Regions from separate parts of the Homo sapiens genome. Here region 2 is linked to region 1. A link means that fine-mapping ties the variant in region 1 to the plasma level of a protein whose gene starts in the linked region. Region 1 holds a variant in brackets. A gene starts in the other region. All regions are shown on their forward strands.

What was found. PIP is the posterior inclusion probability: the model's chance that the variant is causal. Protein levels are from antibody-based Olink assays in UK Biobank. Linkage for the fine-mapping came from a reference panel and not from the study's own genotypes, which makes the PIPs less certain.
Region 2: it holds the start of CD5L, and the variant in region 1 is fine-mapped to the plasma level of the CD5L protein (UK Biobank, PIP above 0.99).

What each region holds. Positions count from the first base shown.
Region 1 is chr15:94,257,684-94,260,607 of GRCh38, forward strand. The region is part of intron 1 of MCTP2 (multiple C2 and transmembrane domain containing 2); the gene reads left to right. Among named protein-coding and RNA genes, the nearest start is that of MCTP2, 28 kb to the left of the region's middle. The variant C/A (reference allele first, on the strand shown) is at 1,633.
Region 2 is chr1:157,840,243-157,843,166 of GRCh38, forward strand. CD5L (CD5 molecule like) reads right to left here and starts at 1,566. Exons shown (of 6, transcript NM_005894.3): 1 at 1,432-1,566. The coding sequence starts at 1,459.

The DNA of each region.
Region 1 (2,924 bases):
TCGAGCGATTCTCCTGCCTCAGCTTCCTGAGTAGCTGGGATTACAGGTGTGTGCCACCATGCCCAGCTAATTTTTGTATTTTTAGTAGAGACGGGGTTTTACCATGTTGGCCAGGCTGGTCTTGAACTCTTAACCTTGTGATCTGCCCTCCTCGGCCTCCCAAAGTGTCAGGATTACAGGCGTGAGCCACCGTGCCTGGCCCATTTTCTTTTTTAAGATGGAATCATGCTCTGCCGCCCAGGCTGGGGTGCAGTGGTGCGATCTTCTCAGGGCTCACTGCAACCTCCATCTCCTGAGTTCAAGCAATTCTCTTGTGTCAGCCTCCTGAGTACAGCACCTGCCACCATGTCATTTTTTTTTTTTTTTTTTTTTAGTAGAGATGAGGTTTTACCATGTAGGCCAGGCTGGTCTCGAACCCCTGACCTCAAGTAACCTGCCTGTCTCGTCCTCCCAAAGTGCTGGGATTACAGGTGTGAGCCACTGTGCCTGGCCACATATTGAACATTTATGTGCTCAAATCCCAGGAGGGTTTCTAATTCCTTGGTTACTTAATAATGTCACAACTAAATGAATGCTTCAGTTATCCAGATTTCTCTAAGCCCAGGTTATGGTAAACAGATTTATTTCTATATTGTGAGTTTGAATTTCTTTTCTAATTATGAGTGACTCCTCTCTCAAAGGACATGCAAATCTTTTTATCCTGCCTCTGCCCCATCACCTGGGTCCACAAAAAAGCATCTGTGTCTACTTCTGAAAATGCAAATTATTTGAATGTGCCAGAGTAAGTAAAAAGGAAGTGGTGCATGCATGGTGTAGTTTGTAAATGTAAGAGTGACTTGAGACAGATGAGATCCTTTATTGAAATTAATAGTTAATGAATTTTCCCAAGAGAAACACCATTTAGTAGAGGTGACAATGGTAGTTACCGAAAACCCTATTTAAATCACGCTTGCCTTAAAAAACTAAAAACCAAAAAACCAAAAAAATCTTGTCTATTTCATCTTGTCTGGTTTGCATTATGTTCATTACCTGATTCTTCTTTCTAAAAGGAGAGATACAGTTCTGAAAATAGTTATTGCCTAAAGGGAGAAAACAAATTCTTTTCCTGGTATTGCAGTTTTGTTATTTGTTTTCCAACAGGTTAAAGGATTTAATTATTCAGATGCTCTAGAACTGTTCTCTGCATATTCTTTTGATCATACGCCCTATCAAGCAGGTACTTTTTGAGCAGACACACCCAATATATAAGTTTACATATTTACTTATAAATTATGTACATGTACTATGGTGCTGATAATATATATACATTATTCAGCATACACTAAAATAGAGATTAAAAGAACACATTAAGTCAGTGTGAATGGAAGTTCCAATATTTTCTTCCTACACTCTGTGGCTATGCTGGACTCTCCCTGGGCCATGCTCACTCAGTTCACTCTGGGGACCCCCTTCACCCCACCCAGCCTAGTCCAGGTCATGGGATTGCAGGACCTGAATAAAAACACACCATTAGTACTCATACTCTGCCTAGGGAGGCTAAGGGAAGAAAAGTTTGCTAAAGGTCCTGAATAAAGCTCATCGAACTCCAAATTCTTCACCTTTAAAGAGAACATGCTACAGTGCACAGCCTGG[C/A]ACCTGGGGCAGAGTGGTGATCAGGAAGGGGAAATTGATGTTCTCCTCCTATTTCTGCTGCTGTTCTGTTACTGCAGCTGTTAACTGCTAGTTCATAAATCTTTTATCTAAAAATTCACAATTCAGAAACTTTTGCAAATGGAAAGGATTTTGTTTGTAAGAATCCTTACCAGGGTTTGGTAGCAAACTCTGACTTGGACTCTTGTGTAACTATTTCTGTTCTATGTAGTAGTTATATATCCCATTAAGTTTGAATTGTGATATGTTTGATGATGAAATACTGTCTCCAAACCATTTAGGGTATTGTGTAATATATGATACACTCTCTAAATTCTTAAATTTCTGAACTCCAAAAACAAACCTGGCCCAAGGTTGGTTTAACCTCTGTGATGATTATTTCTACTTTGAAGCTTGTTGCCCTTTTGTTCAGGTTATTGCTGTATGATCATTTGGTGAAGGATACTGCTTTTTGATGGACATGATCGCTTGTAAAGGCTTCCCCAGGTCTCTACTGTAGGGAAGAGTGCGCCTGTCCTGATTCAGTCATTTGTAAACTATTGTTATTGTTTGGACAGGAATAGCAGATGGCTTAGTCTCACCCTTGTGCACTGAATGCCCTCCACATCACCATGTAATTGTCCTTTCCAGATCATACATTGGGTAAGGAACCTTCTGATCTCTGCCCTGTTCTTAATCTCCTTCAACCACTTTCTCTTCCCCTTTGGCTGTTCACCAGTGAGGTCATTTGCTTTATCTCTGGAATATATGAAAAGGCTCCACCTGTACCTCTCATGTTGTCTTCTCACTTCTGTTTTCTCTACCCAAGGAACCTTGAGTGCCTTTCCTGGGGATTCTGGCCACGGAAACTTCTCCTGTTCCTCAGGGGCAATAAGGGTATGCGAAAATTCCTCCCCGACTCAGGATCCAGTGGGCTTGCCATGGTGCATTCAGAGGCTCTGCCATCTCTTTAGCATTCCTTTCCAGGCTGCAGTCTACCCCCTGAGTCCAGCCCACTCAACTTTCTTGTTCAGCTTTGGCATCATCTCATGATTGGAGGGTGCAGCCTTCATTGATAGGCTGGCATTCTTTCCAGAGTGACAGTGCCAACTCTCTTCTTCTTTCTGCCCTCTCGTCTTCTCTCATGGGCCACAGAGTGGTTGGGAATACAGGTTGTGGGCAGACAGTAAATGGGGCTTCCAACACCATATTAAGGACTTTGAACTTGTACAAAGTTTATCTGCAGGAGCCATTAAAGGTGATTCCATCTCTACCTTGAAAAGACCGTTGCTCTG
Region 2 (2,924 bases), not on the chromosome of region 1:
GGGGTTTCTTCCTGCAGGATCTCTGTATATTTGGACTCCTTTCTCCATAAGGTCCCTCCTAATGCTGTAGAGAGTCCTGGGCCCTGTAACCTCCAGGAGTCCCTGAGGCCTATGCATTTTCAACTGCAAAACACCCACCACCCCCATCTTATAGGATTTTTCAGAAGGTGCAAATATCTTTGGACCTCCAGCCTACAGTTTTTCAGGCAGATTCAAGTAGTTCAGTGGTTTATCCTGGAATATTTTCTTTTCTTGGTTTCCAAATAACCTCTCATTACCCTCATTCCCTTAATCTTCAGAATGTGGCCACTCTCAGGCTCAATGAGGCCTTTTCTGCAACTATCCAAAACTCAAGGTTATATTATACATATGGGAATCATTGCATAACCCCAACCCAACATGTGTACATGTGAAGGAAAGTGAGCATGGCAAGCCTGATATGCAGGTGCAAACGTGATATAGCCAGTAAGTGACTTGGAAGCTCTGCAGTAGGGTGGGTAACTGCAGAAGGCACAGGCCAGAAAGGCTTCATGAAGCAGGTGGAAGTGCACATGAGCCTGGAAGACCCAGTAGTATATCCATGAGGGGCAGGACTAGCCGTTGAGTGATGTGGGGGATGCATGGATGTTTAAGATGTGGTCAGTACCTTACATTGAACACAAAAGTGTCCAGTTGAGAGGATTGTGTGGGCTTTGGTGATGTACTAGATCATCAAGACATAAAAGTGGATGTGATTGATTAGCATAGGGATTTACCAGGCATTGTTAGATGCTTTATATTAGTTATCTTATAAAAAAAAATACTCCTAAAAACCTCTGAGGAACATAATATTATCCTCACTTCATAGATGAGAGAGCAAAATTTCAGAGAGGTATGGTAACCTACGAATTCACACCGCTAAGAAATCAAAACGGCAGGATTGAAATCCAGGTCTCCTTGGCTCCACAATCACCAGATTAACTAGGTTAATCTCTAGATTACTCTAAGCAATGAGAAACTGAAGAAAACTAGAAAAACATTATATGAAACACTTTTCAGAGGAAACCAGACAATATGATCAATGAAAGGTGATTGTCTTGCAGTTCTACTTCCTTTCCTGGCTCTACTTGCTGCTGCCCGGTGCCCATTCATTTGTCTTCTTACTAATAGTACATTTAGGAACACTTATGTAAAAAGAGAAATGGGATAAACTATCATGACTCTGTCATTACAAATATAAGAAAATAGAAAAAAATCTGTTAAAGTGAATTACAAATGTGTATGGATTAAGCGGCTTTTTAAGGATTAGAATAGTTACCAAATGTAAAAAGGAGGAAGAAGCTCATCCTTGAAAAACATCTAAATCTGTTCCAGGTTGGCGGGGAGAAAGTTCTCCTAATCAAAGTGCCAGAAAACTCTGAAGCCTAAACCAACAGGTGCAGAGATACTCACCAAGGATCAAGGAGAATAGCAGAGCCATGACCAAGGCAGGTGAAGGTGATGAGCTGAAATTTAAGGCTAGAAGGAGGTCCCCAAGCAGCAATATTTAGTTTTAGCTGCAAGTATGTTAAGAGGAGGGACAAAGACAGGTCCTGAGTGCAGGCAAAGCATTATCAGATGATCAGAAACCAATAGACTCGGGGGGCAGAGCTGACAGAGCTGGACTTGCTGAAATCAGCATGTTCCAGAGGAAAGGAGGTGGCCAGAACTGGCGGAAAAATGCTGAAAACAAAATAGAAACAGGCTATCATGACTTGGTTCTGCTGTAAGTCCAGCTCCGTCTGTCTCTCCTACAGCCCCTTTGCTATGTAAACAGAGGAAACACCTCCCACAAGGAAAGGCAGGTGCCAAAAATATGGCCATCTCTCAGTAGAAGACAAGGCAGTACTTAGTCGCCAAGGATGGTTTGCAAGGGAAATAAGCCAATTTTGATTCCTTTACCCCAGAGGGAAGTGCCTAGAAAATTTGGAAGCCAGAGGCCATGGGATAAATGCAGAGTTGCCCTTGGAGGCATATCCCATAAAACATAATCCAGGGTCATGGTGCCAATCTCCACATACAGGCCTGGCTTTATTGTCTTCAAACCTGCTTTCTCACTGCTAAGCAGAGGGTCCAATATACAGATTTGTTATTTTTCTATGCTTGTGCTGGTGTATGCCCATCTTTGGAAGCTGGATGGAAACAGATCCCTGAGGTGAGGGGCATCATAATCATTGAACTCAAGTTGTCTGTAGGTCTAAGACATGATGGACAGAGATTAAGCAGTAAGACCCTCTCAGGCCCCTCTGCTTTGCTATATTATTAAGTATAGCTATGCTTCATGAGCTATTCTACTCCAGATTGATCAAGCAATCAATTTTGTATGCTGACATAATCTCTGCATTCCAAGCAGGGTAATTGTTCCTCTACAGTAATAATTTTTGCTTCTTTGTAATATTCAGGTAACTCAGCAGAAAGCTTGGTTCATTGTAGGCATTCATTTTTAATCCCACATTTCTTCATTTACTTAGTATTGTATTCAATGAAAAGTTTTTAGCACTCATGAATGCCAGGCAATGTGATGGGTGGAGGCAGTACATGAAGGAACAAGGGATAGTTTTGCACTGTAAAAATATATGGTCTAGTAATTGCAATAACATGTGGAAACCACTGTTAAGAGAGAAAAGTATAACAAACTTTGGAGGCCAGGCGAGGTGGCTCATATCTGTAATCCCAGCACTTTGGGAGGCCGAACTGGGAGGATAGCTTGAGCCCAGGAGTTTGAGGCTGCAGTGAACTATGATCAGGCCACTGAACCTCAGCCTGAGTGACAGAGTGAGATCACATCTCTAAAATAAGAAAAAGAAATGAAACCTTGGAGGAAATGGTTACTATGTTTGGAGCTAATCAGAGAAGACTTCACAGCAATGATGATACTTGAGCAGGGGTTTAGGATGAGTTAAGTG